Linked DNA regions of Homo sapiens. The protein of the gene in region 1 interacts with the protein of each later gene in a pairwise test. Each region holds a gene or a part of one and is shown on either strand. Other genes may lie near its edges.

Evidence for each region.
Region 2: the proteins of SUV39H2 (region 1) and APPL2 interact in binary tests that used the Homo sapiens proteins (3 or more experiments, as listed by UniProt).

What each region holds. Positions count from the first base shown.
Region 1 is NC_000010.11:14,880,968-14,891,197, reverse strand, and holds part of SUV39H2 (histone-lysine N-methyltransferase SUV39H2), read right to left. Parts: intron 9,699-10,230; coding exon 9,553-9,698; intron 1-9,552. UniProt on the Homo sapiens protein: Histone methyltransferase that specifically trimethylates 'Lys-9' of histone H3 using monomethylated H3 'Lys-9' as substrate.
Region 2 is NC_000012.12:105,226,175-105,233,242, forward strand, and holds part of APPL2 (DCC-interacting protein 13-beta), read right to left. Parts: exon of another isoform or gene 3,469-7,068; coding exon of another isoform or gene 3,454-3,468; intron 3,050-3,453; coding exon 2,951-3,049; intron 1-2,950. UniProt on the Homo sapiens protein: Multifunctional adapter protein that binds to various membrane receptors, nuclear factors and signaling proteins to regulate many processes, such as cell proliferation, immune response, endosomal trafficking and cell metabolism.

The DNA.
Region 1 (10,230 bases):
CCACTGGTCCAATGAATGCTCATCTCATCTTTTAAAACGGTGTAAATATCACCTCTTCTATGAAGTCTTTCCTGTCTCTCATACCCAAGAAGAACTGATCACCATCAACTCCTTTTTGTTCCAATTTCCAATTTAAACTCTAAGTTATTTGCGGGAAGGGATGGAATCTTATTTTTTATAGCCCCCAAATGAGCACAACTGCCCACCATATCTTAGGCTGTGACTAAATGTTTCTGAATGTATAACAAAAAAATAGGAGTACCAAAAGGTATGTAATATACAAATCACAACAATAACTGTATGAGTTCTTAAAGGAAATACAAGCTGATAAACTTGGAGGTAGCAATTCACGGTTTCTCAATATTTGTCACCTGCTGTCTATAGCCAACAAGTGGCAGCAAACACCAAAACTTTAAAAGAAACATATGAGAAGACAAAGTACAAAAAAATTTTGTCTTTCCACTAGGTAATTTTTTCTGCCAATTTTGAAATAATCATCATATTCAATATCAGTGTTAAAATAACCTGCATCTGGCTGGGCACAGTGGCTCACTTTGGGAGGCTGAGGCAGGAGGATTGCTTGAGCCCAGGAGTTGGAGACCAGCCTGGACAATATAGTGAGACCTTGTCTCTACAAATTAGCAGCATGTGGTGGCACATGCCTGTGGTCTTAGCTACTCAAGAGGCGGAGATGCGAGGATCGTTTGAGCCTGGGATGTCAAGGCTGCAGTGAGCCAAGATCAGGCTACTGCACTCCAGCTTGGGCAACAGAGTGAGACCCTGTCTCTAAATAAATAACTGGAATTTGATTATGAAAACACCAGTGGTTCCATGGGAGCATAGTCTGAGAACTATTATAGTCAATGGAAAAATCACTGAATTTTCATGCCAGTAAGAGTAGGAATTGTGATAGCTGGGTTAGACACCCAGAATTGAAAAAAGTGAGCCACATGACATTGATTGTTAAAGTATTTTCTTAGAGCTGTAATTTCCTGATCTCTCAAATACAGGTTGTAGTATAATGATTTCTGTTATTCTAGTTCTTAACCACTCTAGGTTCAATCAGTGTTTCAGGAATATCACTATATTGTCAGATGTGGACTATCATTAATTTGTGCCACGCCATATAGAGGTGGTTCTCGAAACACAAAAGTACCTGTATACTTTAAGAAACCAAAGCTATAGGCAATATTTGTTGCTCAGCTTACTAAGCTATGTGCATGTCCATCAATGTGTACAGAGGATCTTGTTCTTAACTGAACTATCTTAAATACCCATAGTTTTGTCAGAAATTATTCTGTATGAAGGGGTGATGTAGCAACAATAATGCTGCAGAAAAATCACCTTGCATTGAGACTCAATACTACTACAATTAACACCCTTTAAGTTCAACTTGACCCTTCACATGAATTCATAATAGTAACAACCCTTTTTCCTGCCCCCACAGAATTTTTTCCATTTCTCAAGTTGGCTATTTTAGACCTCCTCCACTTTGCTCAAGGTTCCCACCCCTACCTCCTGTGTTATTTTCAGTGATGTATGACCTTTGTTACTAATGCAAAGAGAAAATGGAAACCACCAGGCATTAACTGCCTTAACTGCCAGCCTTCCATGGCCATGGAGCTAGAGATAAGGTGGATGCAGACATGAAAAGAGAGACGCACTTCCTCGGTCAATTCTTCTTGTCTCTTCAGTATCTCCCTCTGCTGGTTCTCACTAGCATTTAAACAGGCTCCATTTTTAAAAAGCAAAATAAAACTAAACCTCCTCTGAGATATAAACTTTTGTATATGTAGGGAATCTCTAAAAGACATATTAAGTTGCTAAGACAGAGACTGAAACTAGGTCATGGGGTAGATGTCAGTATCTGACCTTTTATAACATTCATTTTCTAAAACTACATGCATAATACCTCCTCAAAATTAAAAAAAAATTACTATCACAATGGTCTTTTCAAAAAAACTTGAAAAAAATTATAAACACCCTTATACCCATGTAGCCCTCTCGTTTTCTTGAAAGCTAGGATTCATGGAAGAATTGTCCATACTACTTGACTCTACTTTCTTACCTCCGGTTAATTTTTTTTTTTTTTTTGAGACAGAGTTTCACTCTTGTAGCCCAGGCTGGAGTGCAATGGCACGATCTCAGCTCACTGCAACCTCTGCCTCCTGGATTCAAGCTATTCTCCTGCCTCAGCCTCTCAAGTAGCTGGGATGACACGAATGTGCCACCACGCCCGGCTAATTTTGTATTTTTAGTAGAGACAGGGTTTCTCCATGTTGGTCAGGCTGATTCGAACTCCCGACCTCAGGTGATCCGCCTGCCTCAGCCTCCCAAAGTGCTGGGATTACAGGCGTGAGCCACTGCACCCGGCCTGGTTCATTCTTTAATTCATTCCTTTGGCTCTTCTCAGAGGTGCTCTAAGGGCATCAGTGACCCTCCATTACTAAATACAGTGGATTCTTTCCAGTTCTCTGACCTACTGTTTAATACTCTCCTGCTGACATCATCTTTTCTCTGGTTCCCATGATTTACTCTTCCCATTTTCTTTCTTTTTTTTTTTGAGACCGAGTCTCGCTCTGTCACCAGGTTGGAGTGCAGTAGTGCAAACTCGGCTCACTGCAACCTCCGCCTCCTGGGTTCAAGAGATTCTCGTGCCTCAGCTTCCCAAGCAGCTGGGATTATAGGCAAGCGCACCACCATGCCAAGCTAATTTTTATATTTTTAGTAGAGACGGGGTTTCACCATGTTGGCCAGGATGGTCTCAATCTCCTGACCTCATGATCTGCCCGCCTCGGCCTCCCAAAGTGCTGGGATTACAGGTGTGAGCCACTGCGCCCGGCCAACTCTTCCCATTTTCTGACTACCTCTCTTGCCAGTGTGTCTCAGACTCTGACAGTCCTTCCTATGAGTGTCCCCACCTACTCCTCAGGGCTCATCCTCAATCCTTGTTTTCTGCTCACATTTGCTTTGCTTGGGCTACTGCAATCGCCTCTTGCCACCCTCAACCCATTCAGGGCACAACAGCCAGAGTCATGTTTTCAACACATACATCTCAGCATGCTGCTCCCCTGCTTAAAACTACTAAATGGTTCTCTACGCCCTTAAGAGGAAGTCCAAAATCCTTTCCTCGGCCTATGAGGAGCCGCACACTCTGGGGCCTGCCCACCCCGCCAGCCTCACATGCTCCCTCTTACTTGCTCTGTTCCACTCACACCCTCTATTCCTTGAAGGCCCTCTTTCTACTCCTTGAAGTCAGGCTGTCTTCTGCCTCGAAATCCCTCCCACATATCCCTTTCTTCCTTTAGTACTAAGTTGAAACATCAGTTCCTCAGGGATACCTGCCCAGTCTCTCCAGGATAAGTGAGATCTTTCTGTCACATCAACACTTACGTCAACTACAATAAGTACTTTGTCCAACTGTATTTAAGGTATTTCTACCCTCACTGAACGATAAACTCTGTAGTATCAGGGACCGTACCCTCACATCAGTCATTGCTCAGATTCCCAATTCCTAGTGCAGGACATGGTAGATGGCCAGTAAATATTGGCTGAGTTCATGAACAGGAAACTGCATCCACTCCCAAGGCTTCCCTCTCTATCTTTTTGCCAATTACTTTAGGATCTATGTTTCTAGTTAGATCTCACTACTGATTTGAGCCCCACTTCCAGTTGGTTTAAGTTCCACTTAAAATGTCTTCAAGAAAGTACATTTTGAAAGTACTCAAGAAAGTTGAGTATGTTTTAAGTAGAACTTAAACCCACTGGAAATGGGTCCCCAAACCCAATCTAGTTCCTACTCCTGTATTCCTGGTGAACAGTAATACTGTCTACACCACTGCCCAAGTCAGAAACCTGTATTTTCCTAGACCTGGCACCTTCACTACCAGACCCCCACCCAACCCTGTGACCACAAGCCACAGACATACATTTTACATCCTTATTTTTTTTTAAAAAACAAAAGAACCGTGCACCTACTTTTCCTTGACATCGTTAATACTTTAGTCCAAGCACCATTGTTTCTGGTCTGGTTACTATGACAGCCATTCAGAACATGCAGCCATGCACGTGTTATTCCTTTCCCTATCAATCCCCTTTCTTTTTTGCAGAGAGAAAATTCTCTCAATTACAAACCTGATGTGTCACTCTCTTTAGAACCTGCCAACTAACTCCCCATTGCCTTAGGATGGCTGAAAAATCCTTCACTCACCTCTTTCTTTCCCACATCCATCTCCGACCACCTCATTCTCCAGACAGAAGCCCTAGTCAATTACAATGCTCGCCTTTTCAGGCTCCACTTGGACATCACTTCTGGGAAGCTTTCTGTGACCTATCCAAGGTGCACCTCCCACAGATCTTCTAACGATGTTTGCCACAGCACTTTTTATACATCTACACTGCAACGGGTTATTTCTTTGTCAAACTTTCTCACTAGGCTGTGAGTTCTTTATAGTGAGGGAGTTTCTTATTAATCTTTCTATTCCCAGTGCCTAACACAGTGTCTGGCACACAGAAGAAACTCAAATATTTGTTGAGTAAGTATACGAGAAAAAGAAACAGGAGATACGAGTCAACAGAATGCTGCTATCATCTAAGCATGAAGCCAGGAAGGCCTAGTCTAATAGTGAATGTAGGCCCTAGAAACATGACCGAAGCAAAAGACAATTCAATTCAATGACCATGGACCAAACACCCGTTCTGTACCGGGACTAAAATGAGACATAGTCCTGGCCCTCAAATGGTGGATGATTTGGCAGGGAAGATCTGATATAAACAAGACCATAAAGTGCGACAAGTTCTAGAGTAATGGCAAGAATGGTGCTTTGTAAATCCTGAACATAAATCAACTAATTTTGCTGGAGGTGAGGAAGGGCAGGTGGTTCTACAATAGGTGGTGACCTATGCACTGAACTGTGCAGGCTGTGTAGGATTTTGCGGTCCAGGGAAGAGAAATGGTAGTATTCTGAAGAGGGAAATGGATGAGGAAAGGGGACACAAAAGTGCATGATATGTTCAAGGCATTAGAATATAAGCTGGGTCTGTTCTTCAGCTATGTTTCCAATGCTTAGAACAGTGCCTAGCTCATAACAGGTGCTCAGTACATCTTAGCTAAATGAAATGATCTATAAATATTTCAATTTCAGAAAATAGGATATATGACAAGAGATGAGGCTGGAAAGGTGGCGGGTGGCCAGATGATAAAGAACCTTGGTCCTATGCTAACATGTCTCAGATGAGACTGTTAAATAGGGAACCATGAAAAGGTCTAAAGCAAGGCTTGAATGCAATCAGAGCTAGGTTTAAGAAACAACTATAATGGCACGGTAGACTATGGTATTGAGACAGTATCTTTCATGAGCTAAGTGAAGGTGGTCACACAAGAAAAGGACAAGGTCATAAGATCCTTCACCTACTCTGAATTTGTAAAAGAAAGAGAAAGAGAAGAAAAAAGGCAGAGGTATGCTAAAGTAATGCTGGCTTAGAGATTCAATATCTGTGCCAGACAGAAGAAATGGGGGATGTATGTGGGGTACTGAGGACATAAGAGAGCAAAGGAAGGTCACTTATTCCGAAGCAAGAAAAGGGATGAACTGATGAGAAAGACTAAGAAGAAACTAAACAGCAAAAATGATCTGAAACTGAACTACAACACTCAGGATTCCACACAAGAATCTTGGTAGCTCCCTTAATGTAAGCACAGACCCGTAAGTAACTATTACTAATTCTCTCTGTGAAAGCACAGCAGGAATGAACAGGAAAGGACAGAGAGATAGAGATAACATAATATGATAACCCATTAGATTTAGAGAGTAAAAAGAAACGAAGAATTAAAGATATATGCAATCATGAGGTTAGGTAAGTGGGAGAATTATGTTTCTGTTAACCAAGATAGGGAACACTAGTGCAAAATCCAGGTATGAAGGAGGAAAATAGGTGCAGTTTTGAATGTGAACTTGGATACCTGTAGGGTATCCAGTTCGCAATGAAGCCCAGAAAGGGCTCAAGGCCTCAGAAAGATTGAATGAGCCAAACACATACAAGTAGAAACCACTGGGAAAGAGGCTGCCTACAGAGCAACTACAAGGTGAGAAGGCCAAGAACAGGGCCTTGAAGACTATCAACATTTCAGAGGAGAGATAAGAGATAGTAAAGGAGGTTCATAAAGAATAGTAAGAAAAACAGGTGGAAAAGAAGTAGGAATAGAGGTAAGAATAATCACAGTAAGCACTCACATAGTATAATTACCACGCTGGCCTTTGTTCCACGCATTCTATCTATGTTAACTCATTTAATGCTAGTAACACCCTGTAAGAATAGTACAATAATGATCCTTGTTTCAAAGATGAAGAAACTGAAAGACAGAAAGGCTAAGTAACTTGCTGAAGATCACACAACTTATAAATAAGGGGCAAATGTTAAACCTAGACAATTTCTCCATAGACGAGAGTTTCAAAGAGGAAAAGGTAGCCAACAGTGTTAAATGGGGAAAAGTTGAATAAGATGCAAGGTCTTCAAATCTGACGACTAAAAGGTCACTGAGGGGCACAAGTCAGAATAAGGTGGGTTAAAAAGCTAATGGGAAGTGGAAAGACAACTCACAGAATGGGAGAAAATTTTTGCAAATCACATACTAATAAGGGATTTGTATCCAGACTATATGAAGTATGATTCCAAGAATAAACAGACAATCCAATTTTTAAAATGCGCAAAGGATCTGAACAGACATTTCTCCAAAGATATACAAATGGCCAATAGGCACAGGAGATGCTCAGTATCATTAGTCAGAAAAATACAAATCAAAACCACAATGAGATGCCACTTCAAACCTACTAGGAAAACTATCATCAAAAAGTCAGATAACATCATGTTTTGGCCAGGATGTGAAGAACTGAAACTCATACACTGCTGGTGGAAATGTAAAATGCAGTGCTTTGGAAAAGAGTCTGGCAGTTCCTCAAACAGTTAAACACAGAGTCACCATATGACCCAGCAATTCCACTCCTCGTTATATACCCAAGAACCATGAAAACTTATGTCCACACAGAACCCTGTAGGCGAATGTTCATAACAGCCTTATTTATAATAGTCCGAAAATGGAAACAACTCAAATGGCCACGAAGTGATGAATAAGTTAAATGTGATATATCCATACAATGAAATATTATTTGGCAATAAGAAGGAATGAAGTATTGATATATTTCACAACATGAATGAACCCTGAAAACACGCTGAGTGAAAGGGGCCAATCACAAAGGACCACATATGGTATGATTCCTTTTATATGAAATGTCCAACCAGGCAAATGGACAGACAGATGTAGTGGCTGCCCTACGGCTGGAGGTAGAAGGGTAACTGAGGAAGTCTGGGGGTAACAGGTGGTAGCTAAGGGGTTTACTGTTTCTTTTTGGGATAATGAAAAGTGTTCTAAAACTGACTCCTAAAGTATACTAGAAAATCTGTGGGATTTTTTTTTTTTTTTTTTTTTTTTTTTTGAGACTGAGTCTCGCTCTGTTGCCCAGGCTGGAGTGCAGAGGGGTGATCTCAACTCACTGCAACCTCCACCTCTGGAGTTCAAGCAATTCTCCTGCCTCAGCCTCCTGAGTAGCTGGGATTACAGGGGCCCGCCACCATGCCCGGCTAATTTTTGTATTTTTAGTAGAGACGGGGTTTCACTATGTTGGCCAGGCTGGTCTCAAACTCCTGACCTCGAGTGATCTGCCCGCCTTGGCCCCCCAAAGTGCTAGGATTACAGGCGTGAGCCACCGTGCCCGGTTTACAAAATCTGAATTGTACACTTTAAATAGGTGAGCTGTATGATAGCATGTGAATTATATCTCAACAAAGCTGTTAAAAAAATTAATGGGACATGCAGTAGTAGAAAAAGACAGAAAACACTTGCATGAGGGGAGAGGCAAGGCCAAAGAAAATCTCTGAAGGTTAGGGAAGATCTGAATGTGTTTACTGACTGAGATATATCAGTAAAAAAAGAGAGCTTGATGTAAACAAGACATCAGAGAAGAAAAAAAGTCTGGCGGGGTGCAGTGGCTCACGCCTGTAATCCCAGCACTTTGGGAGGCCAAGGCGGGCAGATCATGAGGTCAGGAGTTTGAGACCAGCCTGGCCAACATGGTGAAACCCCATCTCTACTAAAAAATACAAAAATTAGCTGGGCATGGTGGCGGGCACCTGTGGTCCCAGCTACTCAGGAGGCGGAGACAGGAGAATCGCTGGAACCCAGGAGGTGGAGGTTGCAGTGAGCTGAGATCGCACGACTGCACTCCAGCCTGGGCGACAAGAGCGAGACTCTGGGCCTTTAAAAAAAAAAAAAAAAACTCCTATAGGGGGTAGATAGGAAGAAAAAAGAAAAATGGTGACACCTCTGGAAGTAAGAATAAGTGTGAACAGCTGGTGGTGAAGGTAAGTTGAGAGTTTACAAATGAAAGATCCTATTTTTCATTGAGGTAGGAGGTCTTCAGCAGAAAATGAGAAATGGATAGAGTAAGAAACCCAGAAAAGTAATCCAAGTTGGAAAACCTGCTGACAAGAATGGGAAAAGCAAGCAAGATAAAAAGCTTGTCAGGTAGAACTGAGCAGTGTGAGAACAGAAATAAGTTATAATGGGGCTGATATGCATGATTGTATAATATTCTCAGCTGGACTGGTCAGTCCATAGCTTGTAAACTGAGATGGCAGATGACTGGGGCTGTTTCAGGGGCCGAAGGATGCTGAGAGTGCAGGTGAGATGCATGGGCATAAGATCCCACTGAGCAGGGAAGGCAGTGATACTAAAGAACTTGAAAGAATGGGATTTAGTGACTGATTCAATATAGAAGATGAAGGAGGAAAATAAAGACTTAAACAAGATTCCCGATTCACTTATCTGATAGATTTGGTAGATTAATGACCAAAACAGTTCTTGGAAAGTGAGGTAGGCTATAGACAGATGAATTACTCAAAAATATACAGTTTAGATCAAAAAATCTTTTGAGAACAACTCTGCCGTTTTTTAAGAGCAATAAAGGAAGGCTTAGAGAAGTGAAACGAGTTTGCTTAAGTCCTAAGGTACTAAACAAAAGCTGGAAATGACTTTGCAATCCAGGCCATTCTATTATAACCTAGAACCTGACTAAATCTGGAGTGTGACAAGATGGCAGGAAATGCAAATGGTGATGTTCTTGAGAGTCAGTAACACTAAAATTGGTTTGAAACGGTAGGTTCATTTCAGGTGATAGTGGGGAAATACGATCCACGAACAAAACGAAAGACAATTGGAGATCAAACATTTGCTCTGGTAACCCACACGGAGATAATCAAGAGTTGGATGTAGAGGGATATGAGCACCTGAAAATATTCTAATGCAAGAACACTTTATGCTTCAAAATCCTCTCAATGCTATTTGGCAACACAGATGATAGGACATATAAATTTATCATGCCTTAGAATTTTAAACATTAAGAAGAGCTTTTCTTTTAATGTTCTTTTTATGTTACAGAAATACGAAATACTGAAGTCTGATTAGGTCTCTTGTAAGGGGCTAGATATTTGCCTTACCTTTACTACCTTGTAGTCACACAAGTATTCCACCTCATAATTGTTTAGATTCCTTTTGGTGATTCCAATCGATTTACATGTGAGCTTTTCTTTTCTACATAATTCCTGAAGAGTATCAAGTGAAACTAGGCAAGGCACACACCAAGCTACAATAAGAAAATAGAATTCTTTACTAATGAAATAGCTATTCAATTAAAACAAAAAAGAGAAACTTAAAACCTCTATTCCCCATCTTTCAACTGGCAATTTTAGACTAAAAATTCCTATGACAAGAAACCAGTTACATGTCTTCAAGAAAAAGTTAAACATTAAGGAACTATTTTGTTAAATTGGTGTTCTTGGATTTTCTCATGGATTTCTATTCCACTACGTTTAACTGACATCAGTTAATTTCCATTAAGTCACTTGAAAATGTTTCATGTCTGTAAGCTTTTTTAAGATTATATACAGATGCAGGTCAACAGAGATAATGTTTTTCACTTTCATTGTATTCTACATAGACTACAATCACTATTTTAATAAAATGTAAATCTCTAGGACACTTATTCTTAAAAACATATCTAAAATATACTTTAAAACAATCTTATAATTTGTTAACACGTAACTTTCATTTTTTTTAACTGGACAAAACGAACTGAAATCTAATTAAAATATATTTCTACGGTTACAAACTCATTA
Region 2 (7,068 bases), on another chromosome or scaffold:
ACAGATCAAAACAGGAATCAGAAAAGATTTCTTTCTTCAATTAAAAACAAAACGAAACACCTAAGCTTTCAAAGAAACCTGAAAAACCAAGTGTCCTTGGCCCAGCCAATCTGAACACAGCTGATCACTGCTTGACTCTGTCTTTGAATCTGGCAGCACTAACCAGACATTCTCACCAGCCTGTGCTGCAGGAAACGCTGAGGCAGGAGGAAGGGTTTCTGGCCAGCAGGAGAACCCACGTGATGATCATATGCTGCGCATTAAAAGCTGGGTTACAGCCTCTAGGAAGGAAAGACCCACTTAATTTTGGCAAAATGTCGTTTTCTGCCTCAACAGAAAAAAATGCATGAGACAGCGTTTGGATAACCCCAAGTAGATGATTCTGACAGACACCGAAAGGCAGAACAGAGACTCCTCAGAGTGACAGAGACACAGTCTCTCACGTCTTGGGTTTTTAAGCCTTAAATAAGAGACAAATCACTTAGTGACGAAATACAAATTGCTGAATAGCAAGCAATTTCAGGTATAAGCCCAGTAAGAACATTCCTGTTTTCTTAAATCTAGAATATTTAGGGAAAAATACAAAAACAAAAATTGACGAAGTTCTCATTTCTCTAAATTCTGAATGTCTTAACAAAACACATAAAATCACAGGTGAACACATAATTCTTTTGGTCATTAAAACTAGTTCTAGCTACTCAGAAGGCTAAGACAGATCACTTGAGGCCAGGAGTTTCAGACCAGCCTGGGCAACATAGTAGGACCTTATCTCTACCAAAAATCAAAAAGAAAAAAAATTAGCTGGGTGTGGTGGTGTGCACCTGTAGTCCTAGCTACTTAGGAGGCTGAGGCAGGAGGATTACTTGAGCCGTGGAGTTAGAGGCTACAGTGAGGTATAATCATGCCACTGTACTCCATCCTGGGTGACAGAGTAAGACCCTGTCTCTGAAAATTAAAAATAAAAAAAAAAGACTCTAGTCCTTTTTTTAATATTTACAAAAATTTTGTGTAGATACAGGTCCTCACTATATTGACTAGGCTGGTCTCAAACTCCTGGCCTCAAGCAATCCTCCCGTCTTGGTCTCCCAAGTGCTGGGATTACAGGCCAGCCCAAAGCTAGTTCTAATTAATAAGTTACACTTATACCTTACTGCATAGTTTGCCTATCTATATCTCCAGCCCTGTACTCTGGATCTGAACTTTCAACAAGATCTCTTTATCCACTTTGATGTCCCATGAACTCCTCAAAATCAGTGTTTCCAGAGAGAATTACAGTTGGGCATCCCCATGACAGATATGCACTCACAGGCACGCACACACACTCATACGCACCCTGCGCCTCTTCCTGTGTTCTCCCATGTATCCACCCTGCCGTTCCAGATGAATACCTGAACATCATTCTTGATTCATCCTTTACCACCTGACCCCTTCATACCCAATCAATCACCAATCCACCTCCTAAATACCTCTCAAGTACAGCTGCTTCTTTCCACTTCTACTGCCACCTCCCCTATGCTTAGGAGTGAAGAGTCTCAGCTTGGCTCCAGCTGATTTGCTCTGCCATGAATTAAATGGGTGCACCTGGACAAGTTTCTCACCATCAGAATCCTTAAGTCTCCCAACCAATACCATAGGCATAATAACAATAACAATACCCACCTCAGAGTTGTTAGGGGAATTTAAATAAAATAATCAACATAAAAGCCCCTGGAAGTTCCTGGATGCTATTAAGTATTCAATAAATCTCAACTCTTACAATCACCCTCCTTTTGCGTGCCCAGCACAACCCCACTAGGTTAGGTGGCTCTCCTCTCCTGGCCCCTCTAAGGCTCTCTGGTGATTGCTTTGTCTGCCTCCCAACCCAACTGTCAGCTCCCCAACGGCAAGGACTGAGTCTTATTCCCATATGATGGGAAATGACTAATAAAACAATGAGCAGTAATAGAGTGGTGAACCTATGTAATAAGAAATGACTATATATATTAGTAAGAGCTATATACTACTGAATGTGGTATAGGTTAAGTACCCTGCATCTGAAATGCTTGGGACCAGAAGGATTTAGGATTTTTTCAGATTTTGAAGTATTTGCTGTATCAGTCGAGCTTCCCAAATCCAAAACTCCAAAATGCTCCAATGAGCATTTCGTTTATGTGTCGTGTCAGCACTCAAAAAGTTACAGATTTTGGAGCATTTCGGATTTTGGATTTTCAAATTTGGGATGCCCAATCTATATTCCTTAAGAGATTATTAATGAGAAAAATATCAACACATAAGATTTAAGTCAGCAAGGAATCAACAATGAAAATGATCAGTTACCATAATATTGTGATGTGTTCAATGCTTTGTAACATAAAGCATTTTATTTTTAAGTAACTCATAAATCTTCTCTTAGAAAGCAACATACATGGGCACTTCTTGACATTAAAAAGATTCACTTTTGCTACTCAGCAATTTCTTTTGCATGCTTTTGCAAGCCAGAGATATTTGTTCCACAAACAAAGAAGCCACCCGATAGTTTCAGAACTGTGACTCAAGTCTTTTCAGAGGAAGCAGTTGAAAAAACATCTCTGCCCTCCCACACTGACATCTAAGACTCTGCCCATTTATGAAAAAGACAAAGAGTATGTGTCAAAATACTGGACCCACTTATTCACAAGTAGGAAGAGGAGACTCAAATGTTTCCCACTGGGTTGAATTTAAAAAAAAAAATTAGGAGCAGTTATGTGGCCCATCTCTAATGGTTCTAATTAAAGACAAATCACTCTTAAGCAATGAGAACAGACTGTCCTTAGGTTTTTGAGGTGAAAAGTAGTGAGAAAACAGTTCTGATTTTGTTTCAAAATCTTAAATGATGTTTTTCGGATTCCAATTTCTCAACCTCTGAGGGAAGTTCAGGATGAGGGGAGAGAATGCCCACTCTGCGGTATCCAGGTGAGGGGTGGCAGCATACCTGGGCTCCATAGACGCGCTGCATTGCCTGGAGCAGCTGGTTGGTATAGTCTGTGAGGGTGCCAGCATCTTCTTCAAACACGCTCAGTAAAGAGCGAGTCTGGAAGAAAAGAAGAAAAAAGGTCAATTTCATTTCTAAGTGGAAAAGTTACAGAGGAGGAGGAAGATCCACACACCCGCACATGCAGAAACCAGAATGCGAGGAAAGAAAGGTACCTGTTGGTTCCCTGGCTTCTTTTATTGATAGTACCAGTACCATTTGATTCCTGGAGCTCTGGTTTAGAGCTCGCTTTCTAATCCTTTAGACTACAGTGTCAGGGCAATTTCAGAATTGGAGCCAGAAAAGCCAGTTTTTAAAAGATTATGACTGAAGGGCTATTATCTGTTCTGACTTTAGCCCCTACCTAAGCACCAGTAAAGTCTATCCAATAAAAAAAGTGTTTAAAAGGGCAGCCTCTCCTCTCAAGTCCATAAGATAAACACAGGTCAGGCCTATCTGTGTACCTGGGGTGTGGTCATCTAGCACAGCTGTAGTGTGATCATCCCAGCAGGAACCAGCAGTCTGGTTTTTTGTAATCTTGGATGTCTTGCAGGAGTGTAGGAGTGTGTCATTCTTTCCTCTTATGGTACTACGATTTCCTTGTTTCTTTTTCTTTCTTTCTTTCTTTTTTTGAGATGGAGTTTCGCTCTTGTTGCCCAGGCTGGAGTGCAATGGTGCGATCTCGGCTCACTGCAACCTCTGCTTCCCGGGCTCAAGGGATTCTCTTGCCTCAGCCTCCTGAGTAGCTGGGATTACAGGCACCCACCACCACACCTGGCTAATTTTTTGTATTTTTAGTAGAGACAGGGTTTCACCATGTTGGCTAGGCTGGTCTCAAACTCTTGACCTCAGGTGATCCACCCACCATGGCCTCCCAAAATGCTAGGATTACAGGTGTGAGCCACCGCACCTGGCCTGCTTGTTTTTAATTATATTTTATTCAACCATTTTCAAACTCACGGCCAAGAAATTTCACAACCCCTGGGCCCACCAGCAGCAGCTCTGGACATAAAACTCAAATAGCAACTTAATAAGAATGCTAGTTTACCGTTTTTAGGAAGACAAACTCCTCAGTGCTCAGAGAGCAGCTGAGCAAAGTCATAAGCTGAAAGGCATTTCCTATCATTTTCATCCACGGTGCTCAGAACACAAAAAGCACTAGAGAAATATTTACATACTGGATGGTGTACGAACAAGAATTAAGGTGCACAGAGGCAGATCTACTCAAGGGATTTTCGTTAATGTGCCCAGCACAGTGGGAATTTAAAGTACTATGTTAGCAATAATTGGATCACAACTTCAAAATATAACCCATTAGGCATAGAATGAAGAATAATTTCAGGAATGCCTTTGAGGTGATATCAAAGCACTTTACCAAATACAACTCACTAAGGCTCATTATTTCCCTGCAAATAAATTGCAATTCCTCCTTTTCTTTTTCTAACTTATTTCAGGTAAAGGAACAGTAACTGACCCCAAAGCACCCTCAAAAAACTAGAATAAGAACCTATGCATTGGGATCATTACCTCCCACCACACATGCTCTACCCAGACTCTGCTCCAAAACTCTGATGCGCTTCACAGCAATGCATGCTTATCCCGCTTTGCCCAGTCTTCCGGGCTAAAAACACCAGGACTAATGTACTGTCTTCAGTACCAATGCTTATCCATAGAAGAGCCACTGTGCAATAATGAATAAGGAAATTGTAACATCATGTTTAAAAAAGCTCTCAGTGAAAGAAAAACAACACAGAATTTGTACAGTGTATAATTTGTGTTAGAAGAGCTCTCTGAACTTTCAAAAATTCATAATCACAGTATGAAATACATCAGGACCTGAACAAAGGTTTTCCCAAACAATATTTATCGATAATATGCATACACATTGTGGCTTTTTCCTATTTTAGTCTATTCCATTTATAAACAAAAATTGTGGTTGTGACCCACTGGATTTCATAATCTACTAATGGATGTCAACCAGTAGGTTAAACACACTGATTCAGGAGAATGAGAAGTGATATAACTGGATTGTGGCTAGTTTTTTCAAAAATACTACTATGTCCATTTAGCCAAATCCTGTTTATTGCATTTAATACTCTAAGGGATAAAAACAGACTGGAAGAAAAGAGGTAAAAAGGGAAAGAGAGGGTTTGCATGAATGTCCTCCACAAAGAGGGTAGAAAGAAAACTAAAATTACCACTTACTCTGTACCACCTATGTGCTGGACGCTGTGCTGGGCACTAAACATATGTGACTTCATTTAATTCTTCTAGCAACTCTCCAAGGTAGATTCCATGGTTCCATTAACTTCATTTTACTGATGATGAAACTGAGGCTCATCAAGGTTAAGAAATGTGTTCAACCTCCCACTGTAGGAATGTGGCAGGGCTGGGATGTAAATGGGTCGGCAGCACTGAGGTCACCAGCAGGGTGGCTCTCATCAGCGAGCATGATCTTTGGTCCACAGCGTACAGCCCTGACTGGAGGCAGGACAGGGGCAGACTGGAGCTGGATGCTACTACCATGTTCCCGCCCACAATACCTGCCAGAGAACTACATCACAAGTGTCCTTTTTCCTTATATCGTGGAAATGCAACTGTGATGCCCATTAGAACTGACAGGGAAACTCTGGTCTTCCCTTTTTAATTTAACTTGGCAGTGATCACCTCTGGAAAAAATATAACCAGCTACCTTGGACACTGGCTATCCTCATTTACTATACTGTGTCTGCTCAAACTTTGGTTTGGAACAACAGAGATATTCTGAGACATAAAGAAGGAATGAGACCAAGAATAAAGCAAAGGCACACCAGTAGCTCAAAATCCCACGGTCAGAAAGACACGGTCAGAAAGACACTGGTATATCTCACTTACAAAGATAACAACAGCAATCATTTATGGGGTTACTATGGCATGCCAGCATGGAGACACTTTACATATGTTACTTGTTCTTCCTAACAACTCAACTAAATAGCTATTTTTATTTTTATTTTACATACCTCCAAACACAACCTCAGAGAGATTGAGTAACTTGCCAAAAGTAACAGTAGCAGATTCAGGAGTGGAATTCCATCCATTTTCTACTGCCCGACACTTTTAAGGGTATGCTCGGCCAGAGAAACAAATCCAAGCACCCTATGCACACAGCCTCAGCTCCCTATCACTCCTTTACCTTAAAGAAACTGGGTATTACCTAATAAAACACTCCTAGACATTCTCAAGAATAGTGTGTGTAATTGTGTAGTGGCCCAATGTTAACACCACTGACTACTGAGAAAATTTTAAGGTTATAAACAAAGTTCTTATCTCCATAATTTGGTGGAGGAAGAGAATGTCCTAGTGAAAAGAACCAAGACTTTGGGAGGCCAAGACAGGAAGATTGGTTGAGCCCAGGAGTTCAAGACCACCCTGGGCAACACAGCAAGACTCTGTCTCTACAAAAATTAAAAAATTAGCCATGCGTGGTGATGCATGCCTGTAGTCCTAGCTACTCAGAAGGCTGAGGTGGGAGGATCGCTTGAGCCCAGGAGGCTGAGGCTGCAGTGAGCCGTGTTCATGCCACTGCACCCCAGTCTGGGCAACAAAGCGAGACCCTGTCTCAAAAAAAAAAAAAAAAAAAAAAAGAACCAAGTCTATTGAAAGGAAAAATAGGTTATAAACAAAAAGAGGAACAGCACAAAACATCTCCACAGTGAAGACATATAAAACCACCAGGTTATGTTTTGAGATTATCTTGTTTGAGGAAAGAAAGGCCTGATTTGGTTGGAGAGGGCTGCTCCCAGCCGGGCCACTCAACTGCATAACCTCAGAACTACATCTTTTATTTCTTTGTTCCGTTATGCCAATCGCAAAAGAAACAAACAAAACACAAACCGAGCAAGCAACAGTGCTGTTGTCTTCACCTTACCTCAAAAGTGTACTACTTACAGGACAAGAGAATAAGCCCCTGAAGAAGTACAAGCTGCAGGAGCTCAAAGCTGCATTTGTGTTCCTATCGCAGCAGGATTCACACTGTACTGGAACTGTTGCCTCATTATCTGTCTCTGGAACAAACTGTGAACCAGTCAAGGGTAGTCACT